Linked DNA regions of Homo sapiens: region 2 is linked to region 1. Evidence: fine-mapped expression QTL. A gene starts in region 1. The other region holds a variant in brackets. All regions are shown on one strand. Distances are from middle to middle. Region 1 holds the start of CSKMT (citrate synthase lysine methyltransferase). Region 2 overlaps GANAB (glucosidase II alpha subunit).

Region 1 (8,079 bases):
TTGTAGAGAGCAGTTTTGGTATCAGAATGGGTGCCATCCTTTAATCTGTACTTTCTTTTTCTTCTTTTTTTTTTTTTTGAGACTGAGTCTCGCTCTGTCACCCAGACTGGAGTGCAGTGGCGCGATCTCAGCTCACTGCAAGCTCCGCCTCCTGGGTTCACGCCATTCTCCTGCCTCAGCCTCCCAAGCCGGCCAGTCTTGGGGTAATTTTATCTTTTCCTGCAGCAATGTAAACATTTTGAAAGTACAGATTAAGGCTGGCCGCGGTGGCTCACGCCTGTAATCCCAGCACTTTGGGAGGCTGAGGCGGGCAGATCACAAGGTCAGGAGATCGAGACCATCCTGGCTAACATGGTGAAACCCCGTCTCTACTAAAAATACAAAAAATTAGCCGGGCGTGGTGGCGGGCGCCTGTAGTCCCAGCTACTCGGGAGGCAGGAGAATGGCGTGAACCCGGGATGTGGAGTTTGCAGTAAGCTGAGATCCCACCACTGCACTCCAGCCTGGGCAAGAGCCAGATTCTGCCTCAAAAAAAACAAAAAACAAAAAAAATTACCCCAAGACCAACTACCTAAAAATAGTTTACATATTCGATACCTTCTCTTCTAGACTTTTTTCATCTCTGTGTACTGTTTTTTTGTTTGTTTGTTTTGGTTTTGGTTTTTTTTTTTGAGACAGAGTCTTGCTCTGTCCCCCAGGCTGGAGTGCAGTGGCAATGACCTCTGCTCACTGCAAGCCCTGCCTCCTGGGTTCGTGCCATTCTCCTGCCTCAGCCTCCCGAGTAGCTGGGACTACAGGCACCCGCCACCACGCCCAGCTAATTTTTTTGTATTTTTAGTAGAGACAGGGTTTCACTTTGTTCGCCAGGATCTCCTTACCTTGTGATCCGCCTGCCTGGGCCTCTCAAAGTGCTGGGATTACAGGCGTGAGCCACCGCGCCCGGCCCCGTCTGTGTACTGTTACAGAAGCTACTTTTTTTTTTTTTTTTTTTTTTGAGACAGAGTCACCCTCTGTTGCCCAGGCGGAGTGCAGTGGCAGGATCTCGGCTTACTGCAACCTCTGCCTCCCAGGTCCAAGCAAGTCTCCTGCCTCAGCCTCCTGAGTAGCTGGGGCTACAGGTTCAGGCCACCACGCCCGACTAATTTTTTTTGTATTTTAGTAGAGATGGGGTTTCACCATATTGCCCAGGCTGGTCTCAAACTCCTGAGCTCAGGCAATCTGCCCGCCTCAGCCTCCCAAGAAGCTACATTCTTTTGAGCATTTACTATGTACCAGGTACTATGCTAAACACTTTTACTTCATGATTTTCAGAACAACCCAATGAAGGTACTTCCCCTTTATAAATGAGAAAATTGAGGCTGCGAGGTTAGGCTCTTAGTGATATAATTGCTCTATTTTTTTATAAGCAAAAAATACCACAGAAATTAATTTTTAGCTCAAGTGCAGCAGCTTATCATGGCCCATTGCAGCTTTGACCTCCCAGGGTTCAAGCAGTCCTCCCAGCTCAGCCTCCTGAGTAGTTGGAACTACATGCCTGTGCCACTATCCCGGGCTCATTTGTTTTTGTAGAGTTAGGGGTGTCACTTTATTGCCAGGGCTCAAGCAATCTGCCCACCTTGGCCTCCCAAAGTGCTGTGATTATAGGTATGAGCCAGCATGCCTGGCCTAGTTTTGTAATTTGATAATATATCAGTAATATTTTTGTCCCCTCTCTTCCTCCATCCCAGGCTGGGCTTGGAGCCCACAGGACCCTAGAAGTCCTTTAAGAACATTTAACGCTGGACTCAGCTGGGGGCAGGACCAGGATGAAGAAGATGCTTGTTGGATTCTTGAGGACACAGCATGTCTGGAAGCCACCAACCACTGTCCCTTCTGGGACTCAACAGGCTCCCGTGTTTGTAGAAGTGGCTTTGTGGAATATTCCCATCTCCTGCCTCCTAATAGCTTTGAGGGTAAGTATTGTTCCCTCCCCCTCAAATATCTCATCCAGGTTTATGAAGCTCCTTATACCCATCCTCTTACAATCTCCTTTTACAGGTGACAAAAATGAGGCTTACAGGTTAGGCCACTAGATTATACAAGTCAGTCAGCGCAGGGGTTTTGATTCAGTTCCTGTCTGCTGCTTTTAGGAGCTCCAGTTAGTTGAAACTGGGGAATGACCCAATTGTACCTTCTCTTTTCAGCATTCATTTTGTGCTAAATATTGCGCACATCATTGTATGTAATCTCCGTAACTCCAAGTTATTCTCACTCTGCAGATGAGTAAACTGGGGAACAGAAACATTCAGCAATATGGCACCCAGCTAGTAAATGTGGAAGCCAGGACTCAAATTCTCACTTTGCAGCCAGATAGCTTGCAAAGACAGTTCTTCAGCCCTCTCCTTGCCCACAGAAATACTAGGGTCAGGACTACTAAAATGTCTTTAATGAGAGCCTTGAATCAAGTAAGCAAAGTAGGTGATGCCCCTGAACGGGCCTAGCTCCTGCACAGTCACAGTCCAGCCATAGGACCCTTGTTCCAGGCAGGGCAGTCGCACATCAGGGTCCTCATCTGAGAACTGAATCAGGGTCCCCTGAGGGTTTAGAACCCTCAAGCATTCTGATAGAAGCTGGTAAGCCCTAGGCAGACCTCCCCGGGCAACAGCATCCCATGTGCCTTTGTCCAGCAGTAGTTGGAAAGAGCCTGAAGAAGCCACAGCCCCCAGGTTCTGAGCATCGGCGTGCATGAAGTGGAGGCTTGAGGCAGGGTGTCCAGGGCATAGAGGTGTTTGGCCTGGGCCACCCTCCAGGAGGCTATTCATGTGGGCCACAGCCACAGGAGAAAAGTCCACCCCCAGCACATCCACTGGGTGTGGAGATTTGGTGTAGAGGCCTGTACATAGGCTGGAAGTCCCACAGCCCACATCCAGCACTCGCAGAGGACTGGCAGCCTGTGCCTCCTGCAGCAATGGCAGTAGGAGCCCCTGGACTTCGTCGTATCCAAAGAACCAGTCGAAGGTGGGGACAGTGCCCAAACGAGGCTGGGCATGCAGCCGATCCCAGAGACAGCGGTCCGCCAGGCAACTATCAGCCAGTGAGCCTGTGGGCACGGTTGGAGGGTGTCACTTGGTCTATGTCGCCACTGCAAAAACGTCGTATATACACACTGGCGTCTTTTTTTTTTTTGAGACAGGGTCTCACTCTGTGACCCAGGGTTGAGTACAGTAGCACAATGATGGCTCACTGAAGCCTCCACCTCAGCCTCCTGAGTAGCTAGGACTATAGGCGCCATCGTGCCCGGTTAATTTTTTTTGTAGACAGGGTCTCGCTATGTTGCCCTAGGTTGGTCTCGAACTCCTGGGCCAAGCGATCTGCCCGCCTCGGCCTGGCAAAGTGTTAGCATTACAGCCGTGAGCCACCACGCACGGCCCACCGTAGGGTTTGAGAATCACAATTTCAGGGACTACACTCCTGACTCACGAGGAACCCACCTTACCCTCCCCACTCTGCCCCCACCTTGCCCTCTCCACTCTGCCCCCACCTCCCTACCCGCAAAGGGGCGGCACGTCCCCATCATCAGGCTCGGCAAGTGGAGCATTCGACGCAGCGCGGCCATCTGGAGATTCGGGTAAGTTCGACCAGAGAAGCTTATGTGAAGCGTCCACCCTACTCCAGCCGGAGAGGCCTGAGGTCCAGGGGAAGATCTGCAAATTCCGCGTAGCGAAAGGCGGCGTACAGCTTCCCCGAACTCTGCAGTCCCGGAAAAAAGAACGCGGACACAGACTATGGTAGGAACGGCCTTTATTGGCTGCAGCGGGAAGTGGAGGAGGGTATACAGCGTCCGCAGACCTGAAATCAAATGAGAAAGTGTGAGCACCCCGATGGAGGAGCCAGCTGGATCTCGGTTGTCCTTCTCCGAGATTCCCGGTGTCCCGGCGTTTGAGGATAGAACCAGCGGATGGGAAGCCGCCAGCACCGAAGACATGACGCCGAGGGGGCCAGAGCCCTTTCCCTCTTCCTCCGTACATTACGGGGAGCGGCACCACAAGCCCGATCCCCGCCAAGAAAAGGAGGGTCCTGAGACCCCGCCCAGAGCCTTCCACCCGGCACCCCCACCACTCCCGGCCGCCCAATCTGGCTACTACAGCTAAAACCACACTTACTAGCTCACCACCCTCCGAAAGGCCTCCCGCACCGCGGAGCTCCTTTATATAGCCCGAGGACCCGCCCCCGAGTTGCGATTGGCCCGCGGAAGGCCGGGGCGGAGCCCCGCGGATCCGGCGCTGAGCGGAAGTACGGACCGTGAACTGGAGTGGAATCGCGACTATGGGAGCTCCGGGGGGAAAGATCAACCGGCCCCGAACGGTGACTGTGTGGGGGCCGCGACTTTGTTTCCTCAAGCGTTCCTGAGCCCTTTTATCTCGCACGAGATGGGATCAGTGAGGGGCCGGGGCTGCCTGGTGGAGGGGCCCCGGGTCGCGGCGAGCCCACTCCATCTGATTCGCATCTTTCTCCCCGGCAGGAGCTGAAGAAGAAGCTGTTCAAACGCCGGCGGGTGTTGAATCGGGAGCGGCGTCTGAGGCACCGGGTGGTCGGGGCTGTGATAGACCAAGGGCTGATCACGCGGCACCACCTCAAGAAGCGGGCGTAAGTACTAGACCCTCTTCCTGTTGGTCGTCCCCACCGAGTCTTCCTTCCTCCCTGCAGAGCTCCGGAGCAGCTTCACCTCTCAGCTCACCTTGTGCACTGACGCTTATGCGGGGAATGTCTGTCGGCTGTTAGTTCCTAAGCTCTGATAGCCTCTCACAATACCTGTAGCAGACAACCTTTCTTTGGGTTTTGGATTCTGTTAAGAATCTCAGGAAAGCCGGGGATGGTGGCTCATACCTGTAATCCCAGCACTTTGGGGGGCTGAGGTGGGCGGATCACCTGAGGTCGGGAGTTCGAGACCAGCCTGACCAACATGGTGAAACCCCGTTTTTGCTAAAAATACAAAAATTAGCCAGGCGTTGTGGCCGGCACCTGTAGTCCCAGCTACACGGGAGGCTGAGGCAGGAGAATTGCTTGAACCTGGGAGGCGGAGGTTGCAGTGAGCCGAGATCACGCCACTGCACTCCAGCCTGGGCCACAGAGTGAGACTCCGTCTCAAAAAAAAAAAAAAAAAAAAAAGAATATCAGGAAATCTGTTGGCTCTCCATTCTCCAAGTAATGTTATACATTCACACAGATTTTTATAAGTAAACTTATTTTTACATACAGAAAAGTGCACACATAGGCGCATAAAACTCGAAGAATTTTCCCAAAGGCACTCATAGGATTTCACTTGTAAGTTTCAAGGCCTCCTGTGTCTTGAGGAAGAGTTCCCATCCCATTAATTACTTTCTGTGTCCTTTTTTTTTTTTTTTTTTTTTTTCCTCTTTTTTGAGACAGAGTCTCCCTCTGTTGCCCAGGCTGGAGTGAAGTGGCATGATCTCGGCTCACTGCAACCCCTGCCTCCTGGGTTTAAGCTATTCTCTTGCCTCAGCCTCCCGAGTAGCTGGGATTACAGGTGCTCCCCACTGCACCCGGCTAATTTTTGTATTTTTAGTAGAGACGGGGTTTCACCATGTTGGCCAGGCTGGTCTTGAACTCCTGACCTCAGGTGATCCGCCCACCTCAGCCTCCCAAAGTGTTGGGATTACAGGCATAAGCCACCGCCCCCGATCTATGTCCTTTCATTAGCTTCTTCAATGTAAATATTTAGGGTTTCTATTACTATTTATATTATATTTATTTAATACTTTTCCTTTTTTTTTTTTTTTTGAGACGGAGTCTCGCTTTGTCGCCCAGGCTGGAGTGCAGTGGCGCGATCTCGGCTCACTGCAAGCTCCGCCTTCTGGGTTCACGCCATTCTCCTGCCGCAGCCTCCCGAGTAGCTGGGACTACAGGCGCCCGCCACTGCGCCCAGCTAATGTTTTGTATTTTTAGTAGAGACAGGGTTTCACCGTGGTCTCGATCTCCTGACCTCGTGATCCAGCCGCCTCGGCCTCCCAAAGTGCTGGGATTACAGGCGTGAGCCACTGCGCCCAGCCTATTTAATACTTTTTCTATAGCCAGAACTATTTGTGTGACCTCAGTTGGTTCAGGTTAACCTAGCTCTCTTTATTTCCACTTACCCATCAGGTCCAGTGCACGTGCCAACATTACACTGTCAGGGAAGAAGCGCAGAAAACTCCTCCAGCAGATCCGGCTTGCCCAGAAAGAGAAGACAGCCATGGAAGGTGAGGCTGGGACAGAGGTGGGTGAGGGGAATCCTGGATTTATTTGGGATAATACTTCCTTCTTCCCTTTACTCAGTGGAAGCCCCTTCAAAGCCAGCCAGGACTAGTGAACCACAGCTCAAAAGGCAAAAGAAGACAAAAGCCCCCCAGGATGTAGAAATGAAGGACCTTGAAGATGAGAGCTAAACCTCTTCCACTAGAAGATTCTCAACTGGAGCCAGCCTTCAGACTCAGTGGTTGTTTCAGAGGACTTTGACAAAAGCAAGGCCCCTTTTCACTCTCCAGATTTCCTCCTACCTAATGGCCTACTGACCTCCCCTAGAGGGATGTCTTTGGGAGGGAAGAAGGTACAGAAGAAAGATTGGAGAAGGGCCTCTCTAGCAGTCAACTCCATTTGTAATAAAGCCCTAGCACTCTGAGATGTGTGTGATTAAATGTAGGAATGGGGATGGGTCATGAAAAGATTGGGGAGTATGGAAACAAGACAGTGAGGAAGCAGTACCCACAGCTTCCTTGTGCAAATGCAACAAGATGCCAGCCTCTGCCCTCAAGAGTGGTGGTGCCTGGCCGGGTGCAGTGGCTCACGCCTCTAATGCCAGCACTTTGGGAGGCCGAGGCAGGTGGATCACCTGAGGTCACAAGTTCGAGACCAGCCTGGCTAACCCCGTTTCTACTAAAAATACAAAAAATTAGCCGGGCGTGGTGGTGCACGCCTGTAATCCCAGCTACTTGGAGGCTGAGGCAGGAGAATCGCTTGAACCCGGGAGGCGGAGATTGCCTACCGGGGTATTGCTTGAGGCCAGGAACTCAAGGCTGTAGTGTGCTGTGATCTCATCTGTCTCCTTAGTGAGTGATACTCTAACTTTCCATTTATGACAAAGATACAGATTATTCGAGAAGTTGAAGTTACAGTGAGCCAAGATTGTCCCACTGCACTCCAGCCTGGGCAACAGAGTGAGCCATTGTCTCGAAAAATATAGATAGATAATTGTAGGGATAGCAGAGGTAAAGGTCCTGATACCAGTTCTGCCACTGCCTCTGTGTGACTAAGGTAGGCAAGACACCTTACCTCTTCTGTCTTACTTCTTTTGCTGCATTATATTTTCATTTTAATTTATATATATATATATTTATTTATTTATTTTATTTTAATTTTTTTTTTTTTGAGACAGAGTCTCACACTGTAGCCCCGGCTGGAGTGCAATGGCATAATCTTGGCTCACTGCACCCTCTGCCTCCCGGGTTCAAGCAATTCTCCTGCCTCAGCCTCCTGAGTAGCTGGGATTACAGGCGCCTGCCACCAGGCCTGGCTTATTTTTTGTATTTTTTAGTAGAGACAGGGTTTCAGTATGTTGGCCAGGCTGATCTTGAACTCCTGACCCTGTGATCTTCCCACGTCGGCCTCCCAAAGTGCTGGGACTACAGGTGTGAGCCACCGTGCCCGGCCACCCCTGACTAATTTTAAAAAATTTTCTGTAGAAATGGAGTTTTACCCAGGCTGGTCTCAAACCCCTGGACTCAAGCGATCCATCCACCTTAACCTCCCAAAGTGCTGGGATTACTGGTGTAATAATAATAAAAAAAAAACTTTCAGTAAAGAGAAGAGATTAGTAAAATGAGCCCTGGTATATGCCCTCTACTTAGATTTACCAGTTATTAACATTGTGCTACACTTCTGTATCTGCATTTTTCTTGTCCTTATTGAATGAAATCCTTTGAAAGTCAAATATAGACAACATGAAACCTTACTCCTAAGGACATCCTTCTATGTAGCCAAAATACTGTAATCACAGCTAAGACATTTAACATTGATTAAATACCTAATATGTATTTTTATTTT
Region 2 (8,000 bases), 35 kb after region 1:
TCTTTTTCCCCTTCCCTACCCATCTCCTCCTGCCCCAGTTTCTCGGATAAGGTTAATCTCACGCTTGGTAGCATATGGGATAAGATCAAGAACCTTTTCTCTAGGTAAATCCATGGCCACCGGTACTGTATCTGTTCCTCTGCCCTTACCCATTCCTCACTCTAGCCTTTGGGGGGAGGTGCCCCAGACCCTTCCAGCCTTTCACTCACCCCACTTTCCCCTGCTGTGTGATGTCTGGTCCTGTTACCTGTTACCCTGGCTGGGAGCCCCCAGAAGAAGGAAGGTGAGATACTGAAAGTCAGGTCCTTCGGGAATGTAGGGAGCTTATTGCTTTGCCAGGGGATGGAGAGATGCTGCCTATTGCTGGGGTTCCTGACTCTCAGCTGAGGGGCACCTGAGGTTCTGGGCAGAGCTACTTGCCCTTGAAAGCATTTTTTGGCAGAATCTCTTGAAGTCCCTATGTATGTCTGTAGAGGCTTGGTATAGTATGACCCACATGCCTTTGCAAAGCCATTGTGTCAGGCCAGGAGGCTGAGGCCCAGGGAGAGCACTTGGGGCCAGAATCTCTCAGTAGAGGCAACAGAGCCAGGATTGGCATTCATAACCCAGGCCCCTGAATCATTCTGCCTTTCTCTTCTGGGATGTTGACAGAGGCTGGTGTTCAGGCCTGTGCCTCCTGGTGGCACTTATTCCTCATTTTCCTTTCTCATTTCTCTCCCCATCCTTTGCAAACTTATCTGCTCATTGTGGGTTCCCTCTCCAAGCTTTAACATTTAGTCCCTTCCTCCAATGCCTTCGTTCCTTTGGACCCTTGGCTCTCTATTCCCCAACCCCTCCTTCCACTAGCCCCTCGTCCCTGCCCCCTCTGGATTGGAGCAGACAGCTCTCCTACCTTCCAGGCAAGGATCAAAAGACCCAGCTGAGGGCGATGGGGCCCAGCCTGAGGAAACACCCAGGGATGGCGACAAGGCAAGTTGGAGCGGGTGGGTGGTTGGAGGATAGGGCTGGCTGGGAGGGTGGAGGGGAGAGGCCCATGAGAAACTTGAACTTAGTCTCCCCATCAGGGATGGGATTTAGTTGATGGGAGCGGGGAAAGAGAGAACTGGTATGATTGGAGAGTGGTCCTCTTTTCTTCTTAACAGCCAGAGGAGACTCAGGGGAAGGCAGAGAAAGATGAGCCAGGAGCCTGGGAGGAGACATTCAAAACTCACTCTGACAGCAAGCCGTATGGTGAGGGGCTCGGGTTCCTTGGGCTGGGGTGCAGGGCTCCTTTCCAAGCAGAAGCTCTGAAGCTTGTTTGTTTTTCTTCCAGGCCCCATGTCTGTGGGTTTGGACTTCTCTCTGCCAGGCATGGAGCATGTCTATGGGATCCCTGAGCATGCAGACAACCTGAGGCTGAAGGTCACTGAGTGAGTCCTATGGTGACATCAGGAAGATGGAGGTGGGCAGGAAGGAGTCAGGCCTTTAGGGAGATGGGTGTGCATATTGGATACTCTAGGCAAGCATGGGTCATTTCTTGTGTCCAGAATCACCTTTGGTGATAGAAAATTTTTTGAGAAAGGACAAGAGGAGCCTTTGCTTATCTCTCACCTGTGTCTGTGGAGTGGTGTTAGCATATAACGCAGCCTGGGGCCAGTTAGCAGCCCAAGTCTGTCTGTTTGCCTGCAGGGGTGGGGAGCCATATCGCCTCTACAATTTGGATGTGTTCCAGTATGAGCTGTACAACCCAATGGCCTTGTATGGGTCTGTGCCTGTGCTCCTGGCACACAACCCTCATCGCGACTTGGGCATCTTCTGGCTCAATGCTGCAGAGACCTGGGTTGATATATCTTCCAACACTGCCGGGAAGGTGAGAGCACAGGCACGGGGAAAAAGGAGGGAGTGAAGCTTCCAGGCCTTGAGGCAAATAGGTATACTAGGGGCATTAGCTATTTGGGGACTGGGTTTAAGAAGGGGCTGTGGGCCTGGTGGGCAGCATTTGAGTTCCCTAATCACTCCCAGGTGACACGCTCACTCACATTCTTAGGGAAGGCATTGCCTATTCTGGGCTGACGGAATGCACTTATTATCAGTGTGTTACGTGCTAGGTACTCTTCTGGGTGCTGGGGATATAGTGTTAACTGAGGTTGAAAAGGTTCTGGGCTGGGTGTGGTGGCTCATGCCTGTAATCCCAGCACTTTGGGAGGCTGAGGTGGGCGGATCACCTGAGGTCAGAAGTTGGAGACCAGCCTGGCCAACATGGCGAAACCTCATCTCTACTAGAAAAACAAAAATTAGCAGGGTGTGGCGGCGGACTCCTGTAATCCCAGCTATTCGGGAGGCTAAGGCAGGTTAATTGCATGAATCTGGTTGGTGGAGGTTGCAGTGAGCGGAGATTTCACCACTGCACTCCAGCCTGGGTGACAGAGTGAGACTCTGTTTCAGAAAAAAAAAAAAGAAAGGTTCTGACTCACAGGGAGGAAGACACGTTAAACACATAACAAAGGAGGCAAGATGGGGCCGGGCATGATAGCTCATGTCTGTAATCCCAGCACTTGGGGAGGCTGAGGCAAGAGGATCGCTTGAGGCCAGGAGTTCGAGACCAGCCTGGGCAACATGGCGAGACCCCATCTCTATAAAAACGTTTGAAAAATAAAAATAATAAGCAAGATGATGCCGGGTGCAGTGGCTCCCACCTCTAATCCCAGCACTTTGGGAGGGCGAGGTGGACAGATCACAAGGTCAAGAGATCGAGACCATCCTGGCCAACATTGTGAAACCCTGTTTCTACTGAAAATACAAAAGTTAGCTGGGTGTGGTGGTGTGCGCCTGTAGTCTTAGCTACTCGGGAGGCTGAGGCAGGAGAACTGGTTGAACTGGGGAGGTGGAGATTGCAGTGAGCTAAGATCACACCATTGCACTCCAGCCTGGCAAAAGAGTGAGACTCTGTCTAAAAAAAAAAAAAAGAATGCAAGATGAGTTTGGGGTGATTAAGTGCTAACAAAGACATGAAAGAGAGTCTTTGTTAGCACTTAACCACCCCAAACTGGTGGGGTAGGGGTGGGGGCTGTACTGCTTTAGATAGTGTGGTCTAGGAAAGCCTCACTGAAGAGGCCCCGTTTAGTCTTACCGAAAGCAGCTTACATGAGCCAGCTCTGTGTGGACTCTGGGAGAAAATTGCTACTTTTTGTCTTGGGGTTGGAAAATGGGAGGGCAGGAGGTGTCTGACCCCTTTGTGGTCACCTATACAGACCCTGTTTGGGAAGATGATGGACTACCTGCAGGGCTCTGGGGAGACCCCACAGACAGATGTTCGCTGGATGTCAGAGACTGGCATCATTGACGTCTTCCTGCTGCTGGGGCCCTCCATCTCTGATGTTTTCCGGCAATATGCTAGTCTCACAGGTACATGGTTTTCCCTGCCTCATTCTTCTGCTCTTTTCTTGTCGGGTGATTCTATGTGTTTTCAGAGATCCTGTGCCCCAGCTTGTTTTCTAGGTTTATACCCCTCAGCCTGCCTCTAGTTCACAAGCCTCCCTCAGTTTCTGGGTGTTGGGCCTGATCCTCGTTGTGACCCCCATCCCTCATGAACCTGCAGGAACCCAGGCGTTGCCCCCACTCTTCTCCCTCGGCTACCACCAGAGCCGTTGGAACTACCGGGACGAGGCTGATGTGCTGGAAGTGGATCAGGGCTTTGATGATCACAACCTGCCCTGTGATGTCATCTGGCTAGACATTGAACATGCTGATGGCAAGCGGTATTTCACCTGGGACCCCAGTCGCTTCCCTCAGCCCCGCACCATGCTTGAGCGCTTGGCTTCTAAGAGGCGGAAGGTAAGGGGTTGCAGTCACGCTTGGTCTTCTCAGGGTAGGGCTGAAGCATAGTTTAGCCTTAAAGAGACCTGAACACCCCTGTTCCTTGCCCCCAGCTGGTGGCCATCGTAGACCCCCACATCAAGGTGGACTCCGGCTACCGAGTTCACGAGGAGCTGCGGAACCTGGGGCTGTATGTTAAAACCCGGGATGGCTCTGACTATGAGGGCTGGTGCTGGCCAGGTAAGCAGACCCAGAATTGAGGGAGAGTTGATTGGCCAGCGGGGTAGAATGGTGGCTCTTTTGCCCCTTAGGGGATTGAGAGCCACCCTTAACTTCTCCCAGGCTCAGCTGGTTACCCTGACTTCACTAATCCCACGATGAGGGCCTGGTGGGCTAACATGTTCAGCTATGACAATTATGAGGTAGGGAAGGCCTCTCCCCATGACCTGCGTCTGTCTGTTCCACCTGCCTCCCTGAATCTCTCTCGGCTTGCCAACCCTTCTATGGTTGATTGCCTGCAACATATCAGGGGGCCTTGATGATCCGGGGAGGGCCCTGAAAAATGCATCTTTTTAGATTCCTAGGAGCTCTCTTCTCTGACACTGTTTGTCTTCTTCCTCCCCTCTGTCCTTCTGTCCCCATTTTCTGCCCACGTTCCCAGGGCTCAGCTCCCAACCTCTTTGTCTGGAATGACATGAACGAACCATCTGTGTTCAATGGTCCTGAGGTCACCATGCTCAAGGATGCCCAGCATTATGGGGGCTGGGAGCACCGGGATGTGCATAACATCTATGGCCTTTATGTGGTAAGGGCCTGAGAGAGGAGAGTTGGTGGAAAGAGGGAAAACAGCCCAGAGACTGAGGGCCTAGGGAACTTGCACCAGATGACAGCTGGCTTTTGCTCCTCACTACCC[G/C]TCTCTTCTCTCCTCACCCAGCACATGGCGACTGCTGATGGGCTGAGACAGCGCTCTGGGGGCATGGAACGCCCCTTTGTCCTGGCCAGGGCCTTCTTCGCTGGCTCCCAGCGCTTTGGTAAGGTTTAGAGAATGGAGCTGTGGCAGAAGGGTGTGAAGGCCAGATCTCAGGAGCCATGGACCTGGACCTGCCTCTCTGAGGAATGGGAGCCACACACTGCATCTGTTTCCTCTCAGCTATGCGCTTTGAAGGAAGTCAGGGTGTGGGAGGTCCACTCCTTGTTCAAATGTTCTTGTGAACTGCATCTTCAGCAGGGTTCTGGGGACCCAGAGCGGATGTGGGAGGTCAGCCATGTAAAAAGCTGAACTCCTTTACCATGTGCAAGCTCCCCACTTCTTGTCTTCCTCAGGAGCCGTGTGGACAGGGGACAACACTGCCGAGTGGGACCATTTGAAGATCTCTATTCCTATGTGTCTCAGCTTGGGGCTGGTGGGACTTTCCTTCTGTGGGGGTAAGACAGGGAGGAATTTGGGGTCTTGGTTTGGTGGGAAAGGGGCAAAGTAGAGGGCACAGGACCAAGGTGTTGTAAGCAAAGAGAGTTGAGAGTCCAAGTTAGGGCCTTGGGAAGTTTCTCAAGCAGTATCTCTCCTTCACCCTCTTTTCCAACCTGCTTCCTCTCTCTCCTCTACCAGCGGATGTGGGTGGCTTCTTCAAAAACCCAGAGCCAGAGCTGCTTGTGCGCTGGTACCAGATGGGTGCTTACCAGCCATTCTTCCGGGCACATGCCCACTTGGACACTGGGCGACGAGAGCCATGGCTGTTACCATCTCAGCACAATGATATAATCCGAGATGCCTTGGGCCAGCGATATTCTTTGCTGCCCTTCTGGTACACCCTCTTATATCAGGCCCATCGGGAAGGCATTCCTGTCATGAGGTGAGGCATTCACTTGGGCTGTGAAGAGTGGGCTGAGGTGGCTGGGGGTATTAGGGACTGGGCTTCATCTCTGGGTCTCTTTCTTCACTCACTACAGCCTTGTAAAGGATGGAAAATCATTAAGGTCAAGAGTGAAGGGGAGCTTAATGGAGATGAATAATAGTAAACATTTAAAGAAAATTGACAGCAGTCATAAGCTCTTTCAGAAAAATAAAACAGGGTAATGGGATTAGGTGGTCATAAAATCCCTTTTTGAGGCCGGGCACAGTGGCTCACACCTGTAATCCCAGCACTTTGGGAGGCCGAGGTGGGCAGATCACCTGAGGTCAGGAGTTTGAGACCAGCCTGGCCAACATGGCAAAACCCCATCTCTACTAAAAATACAAAAATTAGCTGGGCATCATGGCGCCTGTAATCCCAGCTACTCGGGAGGCTGAGGCATGAGAATCACTTGAACCCAGGAGGTAGAGGTTGCAGTGAGCCGAGATTGCTCTGCTGCATTCTAGCCTGGGTGACAGAGGGAGACTCCATCTCAAAAAAATGAAAAAAAAAAAAAAAAAAAAGTTTTGAGAAGAAGGCTGTGTGAGATGAGGCCTGAATGAGTGGGACAGACCATGTTATGTAGGAAGAATCTTCCAAGCAGAGGGAATTGCAAGTACAAAAATTCTAAAGGAGAAATTAGTTTGTTATGTACTAGGAATAGAAAAAAACAGTATGTCTTGGGTAAAGAAGCAGAAGGAGAGCTAGGAGATGAGATTAAGAAGAAAGTGTGATCTGCTCCTGGAGGGCCTTGCAAGCCAGGGTTGCAACCCAGGGTTGTAAGCCAGGGCGGTGAAACATGCAAGGAGGCTACTGGCAGGCTGCTGTGCAGCATGGTTTCAGTAGAGGGCAGAGAAGAAGCAGGGAGATGGCTTAGGAAGTTAAATGTCTAAGACTGGATTGTATAACTGAGACCTGAACCCCAACCCGACTGTCTGACTGCAAACTCCTGGGTCTTAACCCCTGTGCTGTTCTTTTCTTTTCTTTTTTTTTTTGAGACAAAGTCTCACTCTCGTCCCCCAGGCTGGAGTGCGATGGTGTGATCTTGGCTCACTGAATGCACTCCGCCTCCCGGGTTCAAGTGATTCTCCAGCCTCAGCCTCCTGAGTAGCTGGGATCACAGGTGCCTGCCACCATGCCCGGCTAATTTTTGTATTTTTAGTAGAGACGGGGTTTCACCATGTTGTTCAGGCTGATCTCGAACTCCTGACCTCAGGTGATCTTCCCGCCTCGGCCTCCCAAAGTGTTGGGATTACAGGTGTGAGCCACCACACCCGGCCTATGCTGTTCTTTTCTTATTGCCAGTTCCTGGAGGAGCATTTCTGACTTGTGCCAAAATTGAAAAGTTTTCCTTTATTGTCTTTCTTCCTTCCTAGGCCCCTGTGGGTGCAGTACCCTCAGGATGTGACTACCTTCAATATAGATGATCAGTACTTGCTTGGTGAGAAATGAGGATAGTTGGTGGTGGGTTGGCTTTGGGCCAAGCAGCACTGCGGATGCCCAGGGAGGGACTAGTGAAGCTGGTGGTGCAGAGGGCAGGCACTTTGGTGTTCCCTGTTCTGGGAACTAATCCCCCTATTCAGAGTTGATTCTGGCATATTTTAGGGGATGCGTTGCTGGTTCACCCTGTATCAGACTCTGGAGCCCATGGTGTCCAGGTCTATCTGCCTGGCCAAGGGGAGGTGAGTTAAGGAAGGGCATGGTGGGGAAAGATGGTGGAAGCCAAAGGAGGCAAACAGGACGGGACCCCTGTGCACTGAGTGATCCGGTATCTTACCTCTTTTGTCACTCACAGGTGTGGTATGACATTCAAAGCTACCAGAAGCATCATGGTCCCCAGACCCTGTACCTGCCTGTAACTCTAAGCAGTGTGAGTAAGCCTGGTCTGGCTGCCGGTTCCATCTCCCTGTAAATTTCCAGAAGGGGAGGGAATGTGTGCCTTAGGGTCCAGTACCTATGTGGGCATACATGAGTAAGCAAAACATGCTGTGGGGCCCAAGGTTGGACAAGGGGGCAACTTCATCCTGGCATTGCTCTTGCCCTAGATCCCTGTGTTCCAGCGTGGAGGGACAATCGTGCCTCGATGGATGCGAGTGCGGCGGTCTTCAGAATGTATGAAGGATGACCCCATCACTCTCTTTGTTGCACTTAGCCCTCAGGTAAGTGCATAGGCAGCGAGTCTCCTCAGCCATTTGCCTGCCTTCCTAGGACTCAGTTCTCTGGGGTTGTGCCCCTCACTCCCTCTTGGGCTCAGGCGCTCACCTATCCCACTTCTTGCTCAGGGTACAGCTCAAGGAGAGCTCTTTCTGGATGATG

What was found. PIP is the estimated chance that this variant, and not a neighbour inherited with it, causes the effect.
Region 2: its variant is fine-mapped to the expression of CSKMT in whole blood (TOPMed, PIP above 0.99). The same link has a PIP of 0.9 or more in lung.

What each region holds. Positions count from the first base shown.
Region 1 is chr11:62,661,396-62,669,474 of GRCh38, reverse strand. It overlaps CSKMT (citrate synthase lysine methyltransferase), which reads right to left and starts at 4,163. Exons shown (of 3, transcript NM_001043229.2): 1 at 4,143-4,163; 2 at 3,529-3,828; 3 at 1,367-3,079. The coding sequence starts at 3,595. The coding sequence ends at 2,424. LBHD1 (LBH domain containing 1) reads left to right here. Exons shown (of 7, transcript NM_024099.5): 4 at 1,728-1,952; 5 at 4,502-4,626; 6 at 6,142-6,239; 7 at 6,316-6,658. The coding sequence ends at 6,346. It overlaps C11orf98 (chromosome 11 open reading frame 98), which reads left to right and starts at 4,265. Exons shown (of 4, transcript NM_001286086.2): 1 at 4,265-4,344; 2 at 4,502-4,626; 3 at 6,142-6,239; 4 at 6,316-6,658. The coding sequence starts at 4,306. The coding sequence ends at 6,425. It overlaps SNORA57 (small nucleolar RNA, H/ACA box 57), which reads right to left and starts at 4,053; the gene lies at 3,905-4,053. RefSeq lists enhancers at 2,816-2,915, 2,936-2,985, 3,036-3,145, 3,816-4,045.
Region 2 is chr11:62,626,414-62,634,413 of GRCh38, reverse strand. GANAB (glucosidase II alpha subunit) reads left to right here. Exons shown (of 24, transcript NM_198334.3): 6 at 900-969; 7 at 1,143-1,230; 8 at 1,313-1,409; 9 at 1,669-1,849; 10 at 3,231-3,384; 11 at 3,578-3,813; 12 at 3,909-4,035; 13 at 4,138-4,217; 14 at 4,457-4,600; 15 at 4,730-4,826; 16 at 5,119-5,220; 17 at 5,402-5,645; 18 at 7,061-7,125; 19 at 7,290-7,366; 3 more. Among named protein-coding and RNA genes, the nearest start is that of B3GAT3, 8.4 kb to the right of the region's middle. The variant G/C (reference allele first, on the strand shown) is at 4,709.